Regions from separate parts of the Homo sapiens genome. Here region 2 is linked to region 1. Evidence: fine-mapped expression QTL. A gene starts in region 1. The other region holds a variant in brackets. All regions are shown on one strand. Distances are between the middles of the regions. Region 1 holds the start of FAM114A1 (family with sequence similarity 114 member A1). Region 2 overlaps FAM114A1 (family with sequence similarity 114 member A1).

The links.
Region 2: its variant is fine-mapped to the expression of FAM114A1 in skin (TwinsUK, PIP 0.95).

Annotation. Positions count from the first base shown.
Region 1 is chr4:38,863,125-38,873,116 of GRCh38, reverse strand. It overlaps FAM114A1 (family with sequence similarity 114 member A1), which reads right to left and starts at 5,311. Exons shown (of 15, transcript NM_138389.4): 1 at 5,283-5,311; 2 at 4,571-4,719. It overlaps MIR574 (microRNA 574), which reads right to left and starts at 5,085; the gene lies at 4,990-5,085. It also overlaps a transcript of TLR6 not described here. RefSeq lists an enhancer at 4,177-4,760 and silencers at 4,968-5,017, 5,068-5,547.
Region 2 is chr4:38,903,164-38,913,155 of GRCh38, reverse strand. FAM114A1 (family with sequence similarity 114 member A1) reads right to left here. Exons shown (of 15, transcript NM_138389.4): 5 at 7,521-7,634; 6 at 7,295-7,401; 7 at 4,430-4,564. Among named protein-coding and RNA genes, the nearest start is that of MIR574, 40 kb to the right of the region's middle. RefSeq lists an enhancer at 8,962-9,131. The variant T/C (reference allele first, on the strand shown) is at 4,047.

The sequences.
Region 1 (9,992 bases):
GCCTAGCTGAAATAGTAAAGAACGATAGAAACCCACTGTATAGAGAAGGGGTAGTATTGTGGGTGGTTTATGGGAGGTGAGTAGAATTGATGGGGGCTGCTAAAAAGGCTGTTGTCATTTGGAAGTTTACAAAATCTTTGTGAAAACCTCTCTCTGAATCAGGACTAGCCTAGGACAGGGTGTTGGCAAACCAGTCTGCTGGCCAACTCTTGTCCTCTGCCTGTTTTGGTAAACACAGTTTTATTGGACCAGAGATACACCCTTTGTTTACATATGGGACCGTCATGGTTTCTCTGGCACTACAATAGCGGAGCTGAGTCATTGCAACACAGGCCATATGGGCTGCAAAGTCACAAAGCCTAAAATATTTACTATCTGGCCGGTTTCCGAAAATGTCTGCTTACCCATGGCCTAGGACTTTGCTTGATTGCCATGGCCTAAAGATTTCCCTGTCTTAATTTATTATCCTCACATGAGTCGTATGGACACAACAATGAGGAGAATGGGTTCATGAATAAATGATACCTTGCCATCACTTTTATTCTCATTTTTTTAAATCGGTAGATGGTAGACATTGTCTGATATTTTTATTTCTTTGTAAGGTAATTTGAAAATCCTTATTATTAATCTGGATTATTAGGAAGTCCCAAAATATTTCAGTTTTCTATAAGCAGGAACATCAGAGTAAATCTGGCTGTGATAAACACTTATGGGTAAATAAAAACCATTATGGATGCCTAAATGTACAAGCCTTGCCCTCATGTGTTGTTATCTTGTTCATGAAGTATCCTAAAATAGTTCAGCATATACTATGTGACACGTGCATGTTACTTAGTTTTAATTTGTGCCCTAAGGGTGGCTGGATGACATTTGAAGTGCCTTATTCAGGAATATACTATCCAGGGGTCTTTAGTAAGCACTTAAAAATCCGTAATGAGGTGACCACCTCTTTTTAGAGGGTTCATCTACCGTCTTCTCTGATGGGCACTCCAGGGTATGCTAATTAGCATAAGGGATATGAGAAATAATTTTTCACTGGTGACATGAAAGATGCCTCAGGTATGTGGATCGACAAGAAATAACGTACAGGTGCCTTCTCTGCTTCTATACCCAAGACATGAGATTGCACTGAATCCAGCAGCTGACTTACCCTTTGGAGTAGCGTTCTTCTAGGTTCTCTAGCTGAATGCAGGACTCCAAAGCCTGAAGGTGACTAGAAGCTTAGTTGAGTCCTGCCTCTAGAACACAGGCCTAAAAGGACAGTGAGCTAGGACTTCCTTGAGCTTATAAGAACAGACTGGTTAACTAAGCCTGTTTGCTAATACATGTGTGGGTTTATGGCAGAATTCCATCAGTGAACTTGGATTCATGGTAATTTAACTCTTGGTAGGGAAGTTGCAGAGGAGGAAACCTAGAGCCCTTACCTATCTCTGATGGCCAAATTACCTTAGGTCAGTTTATCCCAAATGTAGAAAAAGTACTGCAGTAAAACTCCTCTCTGTGGCTGTTCTGCATTCAACCAACACAAACCATCCCTTCAGAAATACCCCAGAAACTCAGCTGTAAGATGTTAAACAGGCATTGTTAAAACATATTTATGGACTATTGTCAAAAAATATTTATGGATTATTATTTAAAATATTTATAGATTATTGTTTAAAATATTTATGGATAATTTATAAATTTTATTAATACTAGATCTTTACATCTGTTAAATTTAAAAATGGTCATCGGTCAGGCATAGTGGCTCACATCCCAGCACTTTGGGAGGCCAAGGCAGACAGATCACTTGAGGCCAGGAGTTCCAGACCAGCCTGCCCAGCAGAGTGAAATCCTGTCTCTACTAAAAATACAAAAAAATTAGCTGGGCATGGTGGCATGTGCCTGTAATCCCAGCTACTCTGGAGGCTGAGGCATGAGAATTGCTTGAACCTGGAAGGCAGAGGCTACAGTGAGCCAGGATCATGCCACTGCACTCCAGCCTGGGTGACAGTGTGAGACCCTGTCGCAAAAAAAAAAAAAAAAAAAAAGAAAGAAAAAAAAGAAAGCCATGCAAGATCAGCTCTAATTCAATTTCTAATTGTGTGTATCTCTAATCCATATTTATCTCTACTTGTTACAGGTCTAATTTTCCCCAAATCAAAACGAAAAAAAATTATTTTTTGTTTGGTTGTTCTGGTAGAACTTTATCGACTGTGGATGCTATCATGATGGGGGAAATGTAATCATTTTTCAGACTATACCCTTTTGTATGAAACCACTAGAAACTGTGTGTTTGAAATACAGAACTGTTTCTGAGCAGGGGCTGCTGGAGTCCACCAGGATTACAGTCATGACAAGCACTGTGTTTCCTGGGACGGTTTCCATCTCCGTCTGGGTGTTCCATAAGCCAGACTTAGAAACCTTTCCTGATTTATGGTTAGGAACACTGATCACTGTAGCCATGTCTCGTGGACTGGAGGCTAGGGAGACTCAACCCACAGAAACAAGGAGGCTGCTTCAGGAAACTCTAAGGAGAGGAAGGGTGGCATATAAAGAAGCCTTTGTGGGCTGGGAATAAGTTAGTTTTTCGTGAGTAAATTCATTCATCACCTAAAATGCTCCCAGAACTATGCAAGGTATTTAAGCAGCAACATCACAGCTCCAAAAATAAGTATAAAACAGAAGACATGGTCACTATCCTTCAGAAATCAATCATCTGTTTGAGGAGCTAACACAAAACAGTTAAAAAGTGATGCAAAACAGCACAGCAAATCAAGGACAGATGTGCCTGAACTAGACTGACCCTGTGCAAGGGAGAATCTTGAAAGTGTCTTTGATGTGGTGATTCAGGCCTGGTGGGATGAGAGCATGTGCAAATGTCCAAGCATCAGCGATGGACTGTAGTGATTCAGGACAGGTGTCTGAGAGGCCAGGACATGAGGCTGCATGGAGGAATGATGAGAGGTGGGAGCGATGGTATTCTGAGGTGGAAAGAGTTGTGTCCTGCAGGCGTCAAGGGATGTGGCCTCTGGTCCCAGTATCCCTTTGTGGGCACACAACTTGATCCTCACTGTGCTTACACCTGCTCCTCTGTAAAGCTAGGATGGACAAACTGATCTGGATGCTTTTTTTTCCAAACTCCACCTGCAGGACTGGGGCAAGTCTGTGATGATAGAGAAAAATGAGGACAAGATTGCAAGTTTTTCATAAATCTAAATTTATTAAATGTAAAGGACTGCCTTCATCTTTCAAGTTTAGCCTTTGTGCTTTTTCTTGGTATTAAAATGTCTTTCATTTTATGAAATAGTGACAGTGGATGGATTTTTTTAAAAAAAATGGCCTGACTTGGCAGCATAAAAATTTGGTTAGCATGATATCCTGTGTGAGGTCATCTCCCCCAGTTAAAAAAAAAAAACAAAAACAGTGCCAGTCAGCGAAGGACCAGGAATAAAAACTCTGGATGAGAGGCTCTTAATCAGGTTGTAGCAGTTTGTATGAGTTTGTATAAAGCTTGACAAGTCTACGTACCCAGGCTCCAGCCTATTCTCTGTGAGGCTGCCAGGCATTTTTGGACCTATTTGCTCTCCTGTTCAAAAACCATTAGGTGTAAATATCTTCACACTTCCCATCATAATCCAGCTCCAATCTCTCTCCACCTCTTGCAACTCTCAGTATCCTCCACTCCTGCCTCACCAGTCTTTTCTCCATTCCCCATAACTCTTCACATCTCCCTGCCTTTGCTTACGCTGGTTCCTCTGCCCCGGTGCTGCCCTTCCTCCAGCTGCCTGGCAAACTCCTATTCCTCTAGACACCCAGTGTCTAATGTTACCTTTCATTCTGAATTTTTCCTTAATCTGCCCCACTGCTTCCAATGAAATAACTGCTACCTCTTCTATGTTTTTGGCACTTTGCACAGATTTCTATTCCATGTATTTATGGAGTATTTACTTCTGCCATTCTGTCCTCCAAGACTGTGACCAACAGCACCTAGGTTGGTTTCTGTCCCTCAGATATTTACTGAATTGAAATACATTGTGTTTGATATTAATAAAAGAGAAACCATGTTTGATGTAAGCCTGGTCAAATAAACAAAGACAAGTTTACTTTTATGGTCTGAATCGCTCAGATTCAAGAAAGCCCCCTCCAACCCTCAAATTCCTTCTGCACTGTCTCACTTGTGCCTCAAATCCATCCCTAACGTCTCATTCCTTCACTTAAAGGTTACAATGTAAGAAGTTTATCAGATTCTTTCCCAAGCTCAGGCTTGATGGAAGAAAGGAGGGCGGGGACGCAGGCCTATGGGTGGGGTAGGGAAGGAGCCACTAGGCTGCAGAGAGGGCAAAAAGAGGCTCTGAGGATAGAGCCTGTCTCATTCTCAGTTGTCACAGGTTGGCTGAGGTCACAGGGAGTTCAGAGCACACTGATTTAAGAAGCCACCTGCCTGTGTCCTTCAAGATGTTTAGGATGGGAAATGATGGGATCAGTAGGGCATAGGTAATGCTCTCACAGCCCATAGAGAGATGTCTTCCTACTTAAGAAAAGGCAGTGACGTTCAGGCGCCTGGTCTGAGGTGCCTGGAAATACTCACCGGATGGCAGAGGCGAGGGCTAGCCGACTGGGTGGAGGGGGCCTGGGGATCTGCGGTAGGGAGTGGGACCCATCCCGGGGGCTGCGAGTGGAGGCGGTGCCTGCTTAGAGTGTTGGCTGGACTGGAAGAGCAGGCAGGGCGTGGGTCGGCTGTTGGGGGAGGAGTAAGGCGAGGGGAGCGGGGAGGTCAAGGCCTGAGCTCCCTGTGCCAAGGCCGAGGGCAGGCGCACCCTGGGACGAGGCCTCTGTCTTACAGGGACCTGCTCCCTTCGTGCCCGGGCTGGGGGACCCTGCAGCCCACCTCTGACTTGGCCCCGAGCCATTGGGGGCACTTTTCCAGACTTGCTTGGTGCCAGGACTGGATACTTTGGGAGATCCAGGCAGGCTCCGCGGAGGTTCACGCAGGCCGAGGGGGCAGACCCTGAGTGTGGGCGTGTGGGTGTGTGCATGAGCGTGGACCCGGAGCGACACACACTCACACACACACACTCACACGCCCGCACCCACGCAGGTCCCTCGGCCGCGCCGCCCCAGACCCTCACCCCAGAGCCGGGTCCTCCCTGACCACTGCTTCTCACTAACGCAGAGGGCAGGATTCGTGGGTCCCGGACGAGGCGCCAAGGTATGGTGTTCCCACCACCCCCGGGCAGCCGCCCCCGCGCTCGCCCGCCCCCCGGGGAAGGGGATGGGGACCGAGTGCCCGGGGCTCTTACCGCTCAGGCGGCCGAGTACGCGCGGGAGTGCCCAGCGGGTCCCGCCCCGCCACGTCTGCAGGGCCGGCGGGGACGCGGCCGGAGGGCGGGCGGCTGGAGAGGGGGCCCCGCCCCGCCTGCGCCCCGCCCCACGAGGAGCGCCGCGGGGACGCCCGGCCACCCCCACGCTGCGAGGGCCGGGCCCGCGCTGGGCGAGTCTCCTGGAAACTTGGCTTGTCCCACCCCTGTGCCAGCGCGGAAAGCCAGAGCGCGCCGCCTCTCCAGCCCAGGGCGGGTGGGTCTCGGGGTTCGCCAGATCCCTTTCCTTTCCTTAAAAGGGCTTGGAAAACCCCCCGCCGTGTCACTGGGAAGAGGTCGCTCAAATTCAGCTAAAGTTTGATCTCCTGATTCTGCGTTAAGCAGCACTCCCTTGCCCTGTCGGTGGGAGTGTGATAGATTTAAAACAAACAAACCCCAAACAAACAACGAAAACCCACTTTCCAGAAGGCCAGTTTGGAGCTGTGGGTTAAAACTCCGATGTATTAGCTTTGGCCTAGGAATTCCACATTTGTGAATTTGTCCTAAGTAGGCAGTCAAATGGGCAAATATGTATGTACAAGGATGTTTGTTGTAGTTGTTTCTGCGGGGGGAAGCCGGAGACAATCTCAATGTCCCCCAGTAAGATTGGTGAAGTAAGCTACAGTAACTTCAGACATCGAATATGTTGTAGCCCTTAAAAATGAGGATTCGTTGACATGGAGGGAAGGCCACATATGAAGGCCTTCCTCAAATATGGCTTAATATGAACTCAGATGCGGAGGAAGCGCAGTGTTTATAGTATTAACTAGTTTTGTAAACAATTTTGTATTTTCTATAAAAGTCGGAGGAAATACAATTTAAAAATAGTGATTCTTTCTGAGCGATGTGTTTAAGGCAGATTTTCTCCTCTCTCACTCCATCCCTTCTTCTTTTTGAAGAATTATAAATTCAAAGTTAAAGAAAAAATAGCCCTAGTCTCTCCCTTTCAATATCACTACCATTTTTTATAGTGTGTGGATCCTACCATAGTTTTTCTAAGCTTATATAAATACATGTATGCATAAACAGCTTTTTGTTTGCTTTTTTATAAAAATGGCGAGATGTTGACGTATTTTGTAAATTTCCCCCTATTTATTATATATTATAATCATCTTTCTTGGTCAATACATATCAACCAAAACCACTCTTCTAAGACTTGTCTTATATATTGCAATATGTTTGTAATTATATTTCATTCAATCATTCTCCTATTGACAATTAGTTTGCTCCTTATATTCCAGTTTCTTCCATATATATATTAATTAATTTATTAATTCATTTTTTTGAGATGGAGTCTTGCTCTGTCGTCCAGGCTGGAAAGCAGTGGCGTGATCTCAGCTCACTGCAGCCTCTGCTTACTGGGTTCAAGCAATTCTCCTGCCTCAGCCTCTTGAGTAGCTGGGATTACAGGTGCGTGCCACCACACCCGGCTAATTTTTGTATTTTTTAGTAGAGACGGGGTTTCACCATGTTGGCCAGGCTGGTCTCGAACTCCTGACCTCAGGTGATCCACCCACCTCGGCCTCCCAAAGTGCTGGGATTACAGGCATGAGCCACCGTGCCTGGCTATATTTCTTATTTAATATTTTTATTAAATATTTTTATATTAATAATTTTTTAAGCTACTGAATATTTATTTTATTTTATTTTTTAGGAGGACAGAGTCTTGATCTGTGGCCTAGGCTGCAGTGCAGTGGCACCATCTCCATCTCCTGGGTTCAAGCGATTCTTCTGCCTCAGCCTCTTGAGTAGCTGGGATTACAGGTGCGTGCCACCACACCCGGCTAATTTTTGTGTTTTCAGTAGAGACAGGGTTTTGCCATGGTGGCAAGGCTGGTCTCGAACTCCTGACCTCAAGTGATCTGCCCACCTCGGCCTCCCAAAGTGTTGGGATTACAGGCGTGAGCCACCACACCCAGCCTGTCATTTTTAAATTCATAGAAAAACCAGAAAGTTATCTTAATGTGAGAGTGGGTGGAAACTGCTTTAAATTGAGATCAATAGCCTTTTTGAATTGAGCGAGACTTTGAACCTTAACTAACACGTGGCTTCTGTAACTCAGTTTTTCCACCTCTAAAATAAAGAGCATTGCTCGGCACAGTCCCTTCCAGTTCTGGCTTTGCGAGTGTTATCAAATTATGTTCCAGTTGCAACAGGTGTGTTTTGGTGTAGCATATACACAGACGTCTGTGCCTGGGACTTCTGCTCCTGCCCAGAGACAGCAAGCACCTTTGCTAACCTGCCTTCCCTTCCCTGCTGTGCCGTAACAGCCCAATCAGATGTTCTCTTTTTAAAGGGCTGAGTTCCTCTTCTCCTTTGACCCAAACCACACCTATCCAATAAAGAAAATAAAGCAAACTATCCTGGCAACAAGTTTGTTTTTTGTTTTGCCCACTGCAAATTTGTCCCTTTTACTCATGTAGCTGCTTCCAGGACTACCAGATTTTATTTCAGATATTTTATTTATTTGCAATGTAAAACATTTTAAGTTCATTTAAAAATTTTCTGGAGTATTTAAAATATATAGAAAAGTAAAGAATAATATGACAAATACTTATTTGTGTAAAAAATATAGGAAATACTATGATGATATCTAGATTTAACAAAATTTTTTGCAGTATTTATTTTAGAATTTTCTTTGCAAAGAAAAAAATGTTACGGATATGTTTGAAACCCTATCCCTTCCATTGTCCACCATCTCTGCAGGTAGCCATTTTCTTGAGGTGGTTGTATATCCCTCCCACCCATATTTCTTTCTTTCTTATTTAGGAATGAGGTCTTACTCTGTCACCTAGGCTGGAGTGCAGTGGTGTGATGACGGCTCAGTGCGGCCTCAGACTCCTGGGCTCCAGCAATCCTCCTGCCTCAGCCTCACAAGGAGCTAGGATCACAGGGTGCCACTGCACCCAGCAAATTTTTAAATTTTTTTGTAGAGTCGTGGTCTTGCTGTGTTGCCCAGGCTGGTCTCAAACTCCTGGCTTTAAGCAATCCTCCCGCCTCAGCCTCCTAAAGTACTGGGACTACAGGTGTGAGCCACCATGCACAGCCCCCCTCACTCATATTTCTAAATGTTTGCTGCATATGTCCTCACCCACAAATGCACGTATAATTGTTTTTCAATGTTTTAGAATATTAAGGACATCCTGTACACTTGTTAACTTGCATTATATTTTTGAGAATCATTCATATTCACACATGTAGCTCTAGCACATTCATTTCAAAGTCTTCATAGGAGGGCATGAATATGCCACAATTTATTTCCCGATTGATCTACTTTATTGTGCTTCATATTTCACTCAATTACATATAATGCTACAATTGCCACCTTTGAATATATTTTTTAGTATCTAGGAAAAAAATGGAATAGCTGGTTCCCCTTTACTAGACATTGCTGAGTCGCCCTTCATTATGGGTCAACCATTTATTCAACATAACCTTTCTGAAAGCATGCACTGTGTACCAAATACGGCTGTAGGTGCTTGGAGTACAAAAGAAGCAAAGCAAACTCCTGGTATTCAAGAACTTACACTCCACAGAAAGGGAGATAGACCCTAACTAGAGGGTCTATATGAGGTGGTGGAGTAAAGCAGGCTATAGAATCTACAGGGTTTAGGGAATGATGGGTAGGACCAACTGTGGTCAAGGAAGTCCTTACTGATAAAGTGGCATTGCAATGTAGACTTTAAGGAAGTAGGGAAATGAACAGTGGCCATATCTGTAGACAGTCTCAGGCAGTTTGGGAGCATGGATGATGCATTCACAGAAAGGTAAGGTGGCCAGTGTGGCTGGAGCAGAGGGAGGATGGGGAAGAGTAGAAGAAAATGAGGCCATAGAGGTAGTGGAGGCTGAGAGATGGGCAGAGGGATTTTGGTTTATACTTTGAGTGAGACTGGCACCCTTATGGCTTTTGAGTATGATTCTAGTATCTGACTCTAGTCATATTGGAATTGGGTGAAGGTGGGAGGGGAGAGAAGGATGGAGGCTGGCATACCTGTTAGGATGCCATTGCAGTTATCCAGGTGAAAGATGATGATGCTTTTGACCACCATGGGAGTAGTGGGGGACATGAGAGGTGTTTGCTTATGGACATATTTCAAAGAAAAATCCAACAAAATTTGCCTATAGATTGAATGTAGAGTTTGAGCAAAAGAGAAATTAATCATTAATCACTCCAAGGATTTTAGTCTGCACTACTGGAAGAGTAGAAATATCATTTATTGATATGAGGAAGGATGCAAGAGGGGGCAGGTTTGGAGTTAGAGGTAGTAAAGATTCAGGCATTTGGCTTGCAACAGTAATGGTTTAGCAAGCATTTAGCAGGCTATTGAATGTGAGTCTGAAGTTCAGGGAAGTCTGGGACTTCATCCTGGTTTGAAGGACCAGGATGAGAGTGCATGGAGTTAGAGATGTGGTCCAAGACTAAGTCTTGGGTATTCCATGCCAGAGATATAAAGAGGACCCAGAAGGAGACTGGGAAGGAATGCCAATGAGTTAGCAGGAAATTCAGGGAAGGGAGAGTGGGGAGTGGGATATGGGGTCTAGGAAGTCAGGCAAGAAAACATTTCAGGATCTTTCAACTGTGTTAAACGCTGCTAATAGTTCAAAGAAGCTAAAAATTGAGAATTGACCGTGGATTTGGCAATGTGGTGATCA
Region 2 (9,992 bases), 40 kb before region 1:
CTGTGGAAAGCACTGTAAAGACACTGGCCACCACCACAAGGTCACAGGGGAAGACAACTGAAGAATAGACTTTGGTTTTTATTGTGTGCCAGAAAAACAATCAGCCTTATTTCCTTCTGGGTTCTCGAGGTTATCTGCCAAGAACCCACAGGGCCGCAAAGAGAATTCTCTCTCCTGTCTGTCTTTAAGACTAAATTAGCACAGACTCTGAATCTTAAAGTTTTTCAAACAACCCAATGAAACCATCACTGGAAAATTTTAACACTGGCAATAAAAACTAATTACCCGCACTGATCTCAGGACTTGGTGGTGGTAAAATAAAATAACAAAGTGACACTGAAATCACTTCCTTTCTCTACACCAGCTTCCACCTCCGAATGTGGGCTTCGGGAGAGAAAAAAGAAGGGATGAAATTGAAGAGAAAGGGAAAGGGTCACTCTGGAAAGATGTGGACTCACTCAAAACTGGGGAGTAGGCCAGGCGCGGTGGCTCACGCCTGTAATCCCAGCACTTTGGGAGGCCAAGGTGGGCCGATCACTAGGTCAGGAGTTCAAGACCAGCCTGGCCAATATGATGAAACCCTGTCTCTACTAAAAATTCAAAAAATTAGCTGGGCATGGTGGCGGGCACCTGTAATCCCAGCTATTCAGGAGGGAGGCAGGAGAATCACTTGAAGCCAAGAGGAGGAGGTTGCAGTGAGCCAAGATTGCGCCATTGCACTCCAGCCTGGGTGACAGAGTGAGACTCCATCTCAAAACAAACAAACAAACAAAACACAACTGGGGAGTGAAATTAAAGCTGCCTGAGGGATAACCAGCTTGACAACGGAGGCTGGTTCTATTTTCCCACTAGAGAAGAAAGGGAAGTGGGTTTCAATAGCAGGGAATGATCCTGGCCTGGAAGAATTCCTGACACAGAGAAGCTATGGAGACTTCCATGTGTGGAATCCAAGGACCCCCTGTCCCCGTGTTATTTAAAGAGTATTCCCTGCGCTTGGCTGGGTGCGGTGGCTCATGCCTGTACTCTCAGCACTTTTCAAGGCCAAATAGGGTGGATCACTTGAGGTCAGGAGTTCGGGACCAGCCTGGCCAACATGGTGAAACCCCGTCTCTACTAAAAATACAAAAATTAGCCGGGCGTGGTGGTGCACACTGTAATCCCAGCTACTCAGGAGGCTGAGGCAGGGGAATTGCTTGAACCCAGGAGGCGGAGGTTGCAGTGAGTCAAGATCGCGCCACTGCACTCCATCCTGGGCGACAGAGTGAGGGCTCTGTCTCAAAAAAAAAAAAAAAAAGAAAAAAGAAAAAAAAAGAAAAAAAAAAAGAAGAAAGAAAGAAAAAGAAAGAGTATTCCCTGTGCCACTAGGATAAAAATACGTGAGAAATGTAGGTAGTGCACGCGTGCACGCTTCTAGTTTCCATAGTTATATATTTCTTTAGTGTGTAAAGGAAAAATATGTGAGCTTCATCCTTCCAGTTGTCCGAAAGACCTTGGAGCCATCCCTGACAACTGCTTTTATCTCACAGCTCACATTCATTCCAACAAGCGATCTGGATCTATCTTCAAATTATAGCCAGAATCAGCCATTCCTCACTACCTACAAGGCCTCCATGCTGCACAGGGCCACCATTATCTCTTGTTTAGATAACAGCAATTGAAAGTGCAATTGCCTCCAGTGGAGGGTGTGACAGTGCAACCTGCAGACCTCCCTCCTACTCCTGGGAGCATAAATGCTGGACTTCGAAATCCAGCCTTCAGCCTCCCACAGCTCTTCCCTGTCAATCACTGGTGCAGCAGGGCACTAAGGCAGACCTGTTCCTGGAAGATGAGGTCTCCTTTGTCAGCAGCCTTTGGCTGAAGGGCTTTCCCATGGCTTCGCCCAGCCTTTCCCATGCCGCACTGCAGTCTGGGACACTTTCACCCATTTTTCTCACCCTCTTCTCTTCACTGGGGTGGGACCGGCATCCTGGTCTAATGGTTCTCCCAGCCTTCCTGGGCTCCCTCCCCATTTTCTCTCACACAAGCACTTCCCCTAATGAAATCCTTGCATGTTTAAGCCCATCTTGGTGTCTGTTTCTGGGAGGGCACAGACTGATAGTCACTCTAACCAGTCTCCCTGCCCTTGGTCCTCCCAGCCAATTTTCTACCCAGGAACCAGAGTGGTCCTGTTAAAGCACAAATCAGATTCTGTCACTTCTTTTCTCAAAATGCTGCAATGGTTTCCCCATTTCACTAACAGTCAAACCCAAGGTCCTTACGAATGTCTGCCATGATCTGCTATCACCTACTCCCTATCACCACTCTGATGTCCTCCTCAACAGCTCTCGCCCGGAGCCCACTCCTCTCCATCACGGGCATCCTGCTGTTCTGTGTTCATGCCAGACACTCCTGACTCAGGGCCTTTGCGTGAGTTCTCCCTTGGCCTGGAATGAGCTTTACTCAGGTTCCTGCATGGCCAATGCTCTCATCTCCTTCAAGGATTTGCTCACATGTCATCATCTGCCCAAGGCCCCCTCACTATCCTACTTAACACTCAGCCTGCCCCTCACACCCACATTTCTGATTCCTCATCACCTCTTCCTGTTCTACTTTGTCTTTTTCCCCATGGCACTCGCTCGTCACTTTCTGAAATACCAGATATTGCCTTCCACATCCCCTCTCTGTGAGGCTGGAAGTAAGGCATTTCAAGATGATGAGGCCAGAAGATGTGGGCTCAGAAGTGTGCTAGCCATGAGAGCCCCCTGGGACGAGCTCCTGTGTGAGCAGGAATATTCATGCTGCACTTTGTGAGAGCGAAAGGTAAACCTTTTTGTTCTAAGCCACACTGATACTTAGGGGTGGTTGTTCTTTCATGACATCTAGTGCTAATTACCTAACTAATACTAATCTATTTTCCTTTCTCTTCTTTTTTTTTTTTGAGATGCAGTCCTGCTTTATTGCCCAGGCTAGAGTGCAGTGGCACAATCTCGGCTCACTGTAATCACCACCTCCCTGGTTCAAGCAATTCCCCTGCCTCAGCCTCCCGAGTAGCTGGGATTACAGGTGCTCGCCACCACATCCGGCTAATTTTTTTTTTTGTATTTTTAGTAAAGACAGGGTTTCACCATCTTGGCCAGGCTGGTCTCGAACTCCTGACCTCAGGTGATCTGCCCGCCTCGGCCTCTCAAAGTGCTGGGATTACCGGCATGAGCCACTGTGCCCAGCCATCTATTTTCTTTTTCAAGGAGCAGCAGGGTGATGGTCTAGATGATCCTGCAAAGTCCCTCCCTGGACTATAACATCGGAGTGCTCATACTTGGGTTATTCCAGAAGAGACAAGAAGAAATAGCCTAAAACAAAAGCTTCTAGGGGTTGCCATGAACATATTCTCAGTGATAGCTGTTCATGAAGGCAACCTTCATGGGTTCCTAGTACCAAGTCCTGCCTGTGACGTTTACAAAATCCACTGCTGCATCAGCTGCTTCTGATTTCAGGAAAGCACAGAGACCTGGTGTATCAGTCTCTCGTGGAGGAGGTGGACTGGGGCATGCCTGGATTGTGGGGTAAGCTAGGCATGTTCCATCTGGAAAAGTAAGTTTAATATTAGAGTCATATTTGGAAAACAAGACTAATATTATTTCCAATTTTCTTAACTATTGTAAGTAAGCAAAGACAGATTGAATTCTTTGTTTTATGTTTTGCAAGAAGGGCTGGAAAACTTTAGTGCTGGAAGTGTGAGAGGAGAAGACCATCCTTGCACATATCAAGAGAAACAGAATTTAAAATTCCAATGAGATACCATTTCCACCTATTATACCGACACATAATAACGGCAATGACAACAACTAACATTTCTGAATGCTTACTAAGAGCTGGGTTCTATTCTAACTCAGCGTATCCTCACAACAAAGTTATTGGTAGGTATTTAAATTATCCCCAGTGTACAGATGAGTAAGCTGAGGCACAGAGGGGCTAAGTAACTTGCCCAAGGTCACTCAGCTACTAAGTGGTAGAGATGGGATGCATACCATGACATAAATGGATCATCTTCAAGAAATAATATTAAG[T/C]GAATTAAGCAAGGAACAAGAGTGTGTTTAGTATGTTACCACTGGGTTGAAAAAATATGTGTGTATTTATGTGCATGTCTATCCACATGCATACATATGTACTTTTACATCTGTATATTTATGTATAGCTGCATCTATAGATCTATATCCATATCTCTCTGCGGTCTCTGATAGAATCCTTAAGGAACTGTTAACTGGTTGTCTCCTCTGAGGAATTAAGTGACTGGGGAAATGGGGGTATTAGAAGCTCAGTTTTCTCTCTCTGCTCTTTGGTGTCATTTGATTTGAATCACATGCTTTAAATGAGCTATTCAAAAAGATAAATAAAAAATTTATTTACTTTATTGACTGAAAGAAAAAATTGCAAACGTATATAATCCAACCTGAGACAAGGAAACAGTTCTCTCCATGAGCGTCTTGGTCCGCTTAAAGCCCGGGTCACTTTCTGCAAGGACATTCATGGTTTTCTTGCCGATGAATTCCAACGCATCAAGGCCTCCAGTTAAGACACTTTTACCCTGCAGATGAGATAACTGCATGAGATTAGATGTTTAGGTTTTGCTGTTTCGCAGCAGTCAGCAACTCCTAGGTAACTGGCACTATCTTCAAATATTAAAATCAATATAAAGTCACAATTTTTTCTCATCAGGAGATTTATCATCCATTTAATCCTATTCTCGTTTCCTTGGAAAAGCATATGTTATATAATTTGTAGGACATACAATGTTATTAAAGACTGATGCTTAGAAAAAAACCAAAGCACATAAAATAAAATTAATCCCACAAAGGGATTAATTTTACTGGCTCTCTGTGTATGAATGGATGTGTATCTAAGACATAAAATTAACATAAAATAAATTGCTAAGACATAAAATTAACATAAAATAAATTGCTGTTTCTGTTTAAAAATTTTTTTAACCCAAGTAACAGAGTTGCTTGGAGCAGTCTATTAAAATGTCAAACAGTCCTGCTAATTTAGGGAATTCTTTAATCTAGGGCCCTGGAGGGTAAGACCCTCAGGCTGTTTCAGATGGTTCTTGCATACTCTCAGAAACTAGCAATAACTGCCTATAATTAGTATATCCATGAAATGAGACAGGTTGATTTCCTTGTACTTCTGGCTTTAGAAACTGGTGTATTATATAGCTATCCTCCTGCAAATCCCTTTGTCAGTCATTGTTGCTTTTTTTAAAAAATTAAAATAACCCAGACTTACTCACACATAAACTATTCAAGTGAACAGAACTGCATACATGTCTTTGCAACTCTTTCATACTTACACTCCAACTGTATAACTGCAATTATAATATGCATACATCTGTGTTTTTCCCCACCATATATAAAAATGATATAAATTGTATTTTATTATGATATTATTACTGATATGCATTTTCCAATCTTCATAATTATCATTTAAATAGAAGTATTTAATTTCATAGAATTAATATACTTTATTTTCATCTTGGGTATTTAGACTTTGTTTTTAGATTTGGGAGCCAACCAGTAATCATGCTGTAAATCAGTTTTCAGTGCGCACACTTCGGGGGGATGATGGGACAGCAGCAATTCACACTTCTGTGTAATTTGACTTAGTGCCTGCTAACATCCTATGAAAAATTATTTTATTGAGAATAAAATGGTGGAAGAAAGGACACAGGGATTTGTGTTAAGGATAGACTTGGAGGGGTAGTGTCTGGAACTTGGGAAAAAGGGGTCAAGAAGGTTGGAGAGAACACAGAAAGGAATGTGAGGCTGCTGAAGACAAACTCATAGTGCCCTCTTGGTAGCTCAGATAGGCCGTGAATTCATTTCTTATACCAGAGGTACTGACAGAGCTCCATCCATCTCCCATCCTACAAACCCCCCACGGGGGTGGTTGACTTGTATTGCTACTTGACTCCTAAGACAGATTTGCTGCTCCTCCTTACTTCCCCCACCCCAGTCTAGAGGTCCTCAAATAGCAAGGAGAAGACCAGTCATTTTCTATATTTCTGGCATGTCCTGACCCCAAGGTCTGGGTGAGATCCTCTCATGTTTGACCGCAGCCCTCACCTCTTCCCGAATTACATTGTGTTTATTTGTTCAGTCGCCTCAGTCCTCTGGGATATTGTGCCCTCTTGTTTGCCAGCATATATCCAAGATCTAGCATAGATACTGGAACATAGTGAGGGCTAATCATGTTTGTGTTGTTGTTTTTCTTTTAATGAATGAATGAATGAATGAATGACTAAATGAGACACGAGCCATATTTTTAGAAAAACTAGTTAGTTTACATAGTAAGAAATACACCTTCACACCTGTAATCTCAGCACTTTGGGAGGCCGAGGCAGGAGGATCACCTGAGGTCAAGAGTTCAAGACAAGCCTGGCCAACGTGGTGAAACCCCATCTCTACTAAAAACACAAAAATTAGCTGGGTGTGGTGGTGGGCACCTGTAATCCCAGCTACTTGGGAGGCTGAGGTGGGAGAATCACTTGAATCAGGGATGCGGAGGTTGCAGTGAGCCGAGATTGCACCACTGCACGCCAGCCTAGGTGACAAGAGTGAGACTCCATCTCAAAAAAACAAAAGAAAAAACAAAATAAATCTTTGCTCCCTGACCCTGATGACCAGCTACCTGCCTTATCTCAGTTGAGGTGCCTCCCCTTTTTTCATTATTCACCAATGTTTTGCTGCTAATATGGAGCTTCTTCTAAGAGGTAGGCAGGGATCTAGGGGGATACACTTAGGGTGGTGTAAGGAGGAGGAAGGGTGGGAATGAAGAGGTAGGGATGGGGGAAGAACGCTGGTCTCTGGAAACACTTCAGAAACATATTTGGGCTGTTTTTCCTGTCTTGTAACGGGTACTTTTTATTTAAACGGTTTAATGCTTTTTCAAACTCAGGGATAAGATAAGCAGAGCATTTAGGAAAAACAGCTGTCCCAGCTCTGATAAAGAGTTCTCTCTCCCCTCAACCAGAGGCTGTCCTTGCCGCAGCTGGAAAGGACACTGTTAAATCAGACTGAAAAATGTTCCTTCCAAACAGCTCCCTTCTTTTAAACATAAAATATATTTCATTTTGCCCTTATTATTTTGAATCCAAGGTTACGTCTACTTTGTAGCAGAAAACATTAAAAAAAAAACCATAATCCAAAGTTCTGAGCAAGGCCATCGTTTCTCTGATGTATCTAGGTCACTGGTAAATGGAAATATCAAAAGAAGGCCCTGGGAAATACAGGGGAAAGAGAGGAAGCAGCCAGCGACTCACTGTGTTTTGAACCACATTGGTGATGGCAGACAGCATACCCCGAGAGGCTGATGAAGGGGAAGTGGGTGGGCTTTCTGCAGGGCCCTGATCTGTGGCTGCATCTGTTACTAAAGAGAAAAAAGAAATCCTTTAAGAGTTCACGTCGCTGATCTGAACTTGGAAAACCTCTGATTATGCACATGGTGTAATAAAGTCCAAGAACACCCAGAGGAGACACATCACTCACTTTCAGGGACTCCGTTTTCAGTATTTGGTTGGGCTCCTTCAGAAGATCCAGAATTTACACCATGAATCCGTAGAGTGGCTCCTGCTTTTTCCTTGACTGCCGTCAATCCATGACCTGTTGGAAATAAAAATATGGTTCATGGATACATTAGAAATCCACGGTCTGCAAATCCTCCACCAAATCTTACAAAGCTGTTTCAAGTTGCAGAAGTACATCTTTCTTTTTTTTTTTTTTTAAAAGATGGAGTCTTGCTCTGTCACCCAGGCTGGAGTGCAGTGGTGCAATCTTGGCTCACTGCAACCTCCGCCTCCCGAGTTCAAGTGATTCTCCTGCCTCAGCCTCCCTAGCAGCTGGGATTACAGATGCACACCACCACGCCCGGCTAATTTTTGTGCCTTTAGTGGAGACTAGGTTTCACTAAGTGTTGGCCAGGCTTGTCTTGAACTCCTGACCTCAGGTGATTGGCTCACCTCTGCCTCCCAAAGTGCTGGGATTACAGGTGTGAGCCATCGCACCTGGCCTGTAGAAGTACATCCTGATTGAAAGAAAGAGGAATCCCTGCTCCCTGAGATGTGGGTTCCAATATGAGCTCAGTTTCACCCCTGCCTGGTTGAATGACCTTGGAGAAGTTACCTAGCCTCTCTGTGACTCAGTTTCCTCATTGAGTTATTGTGACGTGCAAATGAGATACACGTAGGTAAAGTGCTCCCGGATGCTTCACTGTTTGCTTTTGCTTCTCACACCACCTAGCTATCAACCTGGAATTCTAAGCTCAACACAGTCTTTGTATAGTGTACCTGTCTCATCCTCTTTACTCTTTTGTAAGCTCCTTATGGAAGATATTCTTCATTCATTTTTTTGATTCCTTGCAGGCTTAGCACATTGCAGATGATCAATTAATATTGGTTGGATTGAAATCACCTGAGCCTCAGAATGTTTCTTTAAAGCATTAGGCCTTCCTTTAGGCATGGAGAGTGAAGGTCCTGGAGCTGACATCCAAAAATCAAAAGGCAAGTCAGTGGAGAAACCAGGAAGGCCACCCAACAGCCCCGACAGTTGTCTTAATAATGATATAAATCAACCTTAACAGCAGTCAGGCAGGCGAAGAGCACAGGTTTTACTCCATCTAAGCAGGGATAATACCCTTGTTCCCTGAGCCAGGCAGAGCGGTTATTCAATAACTATTTGGTAAATACAGAGCTGACCTTCCTACCCACAGGGAAAAACCCCAACCTTTGACCTGATACGGACATAGTCTTGTCTACATTTTATTCTGGAGAGATTTTCCTCCCTTTGAGGCCTTCACGATGAGCTATAGCTTTTCTGAGTTGTCAAACTGTTGAAGGAATGAATAGCCTACGGATGGTCCAAAGTGGCTGTCTGACTTCTTGAAGGAGAAACAGCACAGGCTGCCATCATCACAGAACTCCCCATCCCCCGAGCACTCACGGAGAAAATGAAAGATTTCTCTCGGGACCTGGGTGACCTCAGGTTGCTAAAACACAAGGCAGTAATATGAGGAAAAACGTCCCAAGTCCCAACAGAATTTGAGAGCTAACTAGAACCACCTAGTCTTAGAAGGCACTGTTAAAATAACCAATTGCCCATTTCCTGAATAAGAAAGGGGAACACATGGATGACTCCCAAACCTAAAGAGTAGCATTTTAGCAGTTGTAACCTTATTTATCCTAGTGATCTTAGCATTAACAAGGCACTGATATTTGACAAATGTAGAAGGAATTATGTCCAATGGAAATCACCTGTCCTTATACACTACCTAGAAAACCCTGAAATGTAAACATTATTTACAACTGTAATCACATATAGAAATACGTGTTTATAGTCATGTGCAGATCATTAGACACAGTTCAAATTAATTACTGAGTTACTTGAAAAAATAAAGGTGTATTGCGACTGTTAAGGCTTGAATTAATTATCTCTAGCGTCCAATGAATTTCAAGCATTTCAATGGAAACTTATTGAAGTTTCAATAACACATTTAAGTTAGAGGATAGAATATCTTACTCTTTTACATACTGAGTCCAACTTCCCTGCCATTAAATATATATATATGCATTTTCCAAAAGGAAATAATGTGCCTCCAAATCTCAACCTATGATTCTCGTCTAGATTTCTGAGAGCCAAAATCAAGGAAAAAAATGAGGTCAAGGAGGCTGGGAGGCACCATCTTCTCTGTCTTCTTTGCTTAAGCCACTCAAGAAAGATGATCACACATCCTTCCCTGAGACTGTTTCAGGAGATAATGAAACTCATATTCAGTATCTCTTCTTTCACCTTCTCCGTCCCTTGCAGGTTAGGATAATGTCTGGTTCCTTTTGCAGGAAGAATGGCTTCTCGCCATCTCAGAACATAAACGATCACAGATATGTATACACGAGCTGCCTCTAGAAAAATCACTTTGTTACTAGAAGGAAATACGATTTTATGTGCATGTAAATGGGATCTATCTAT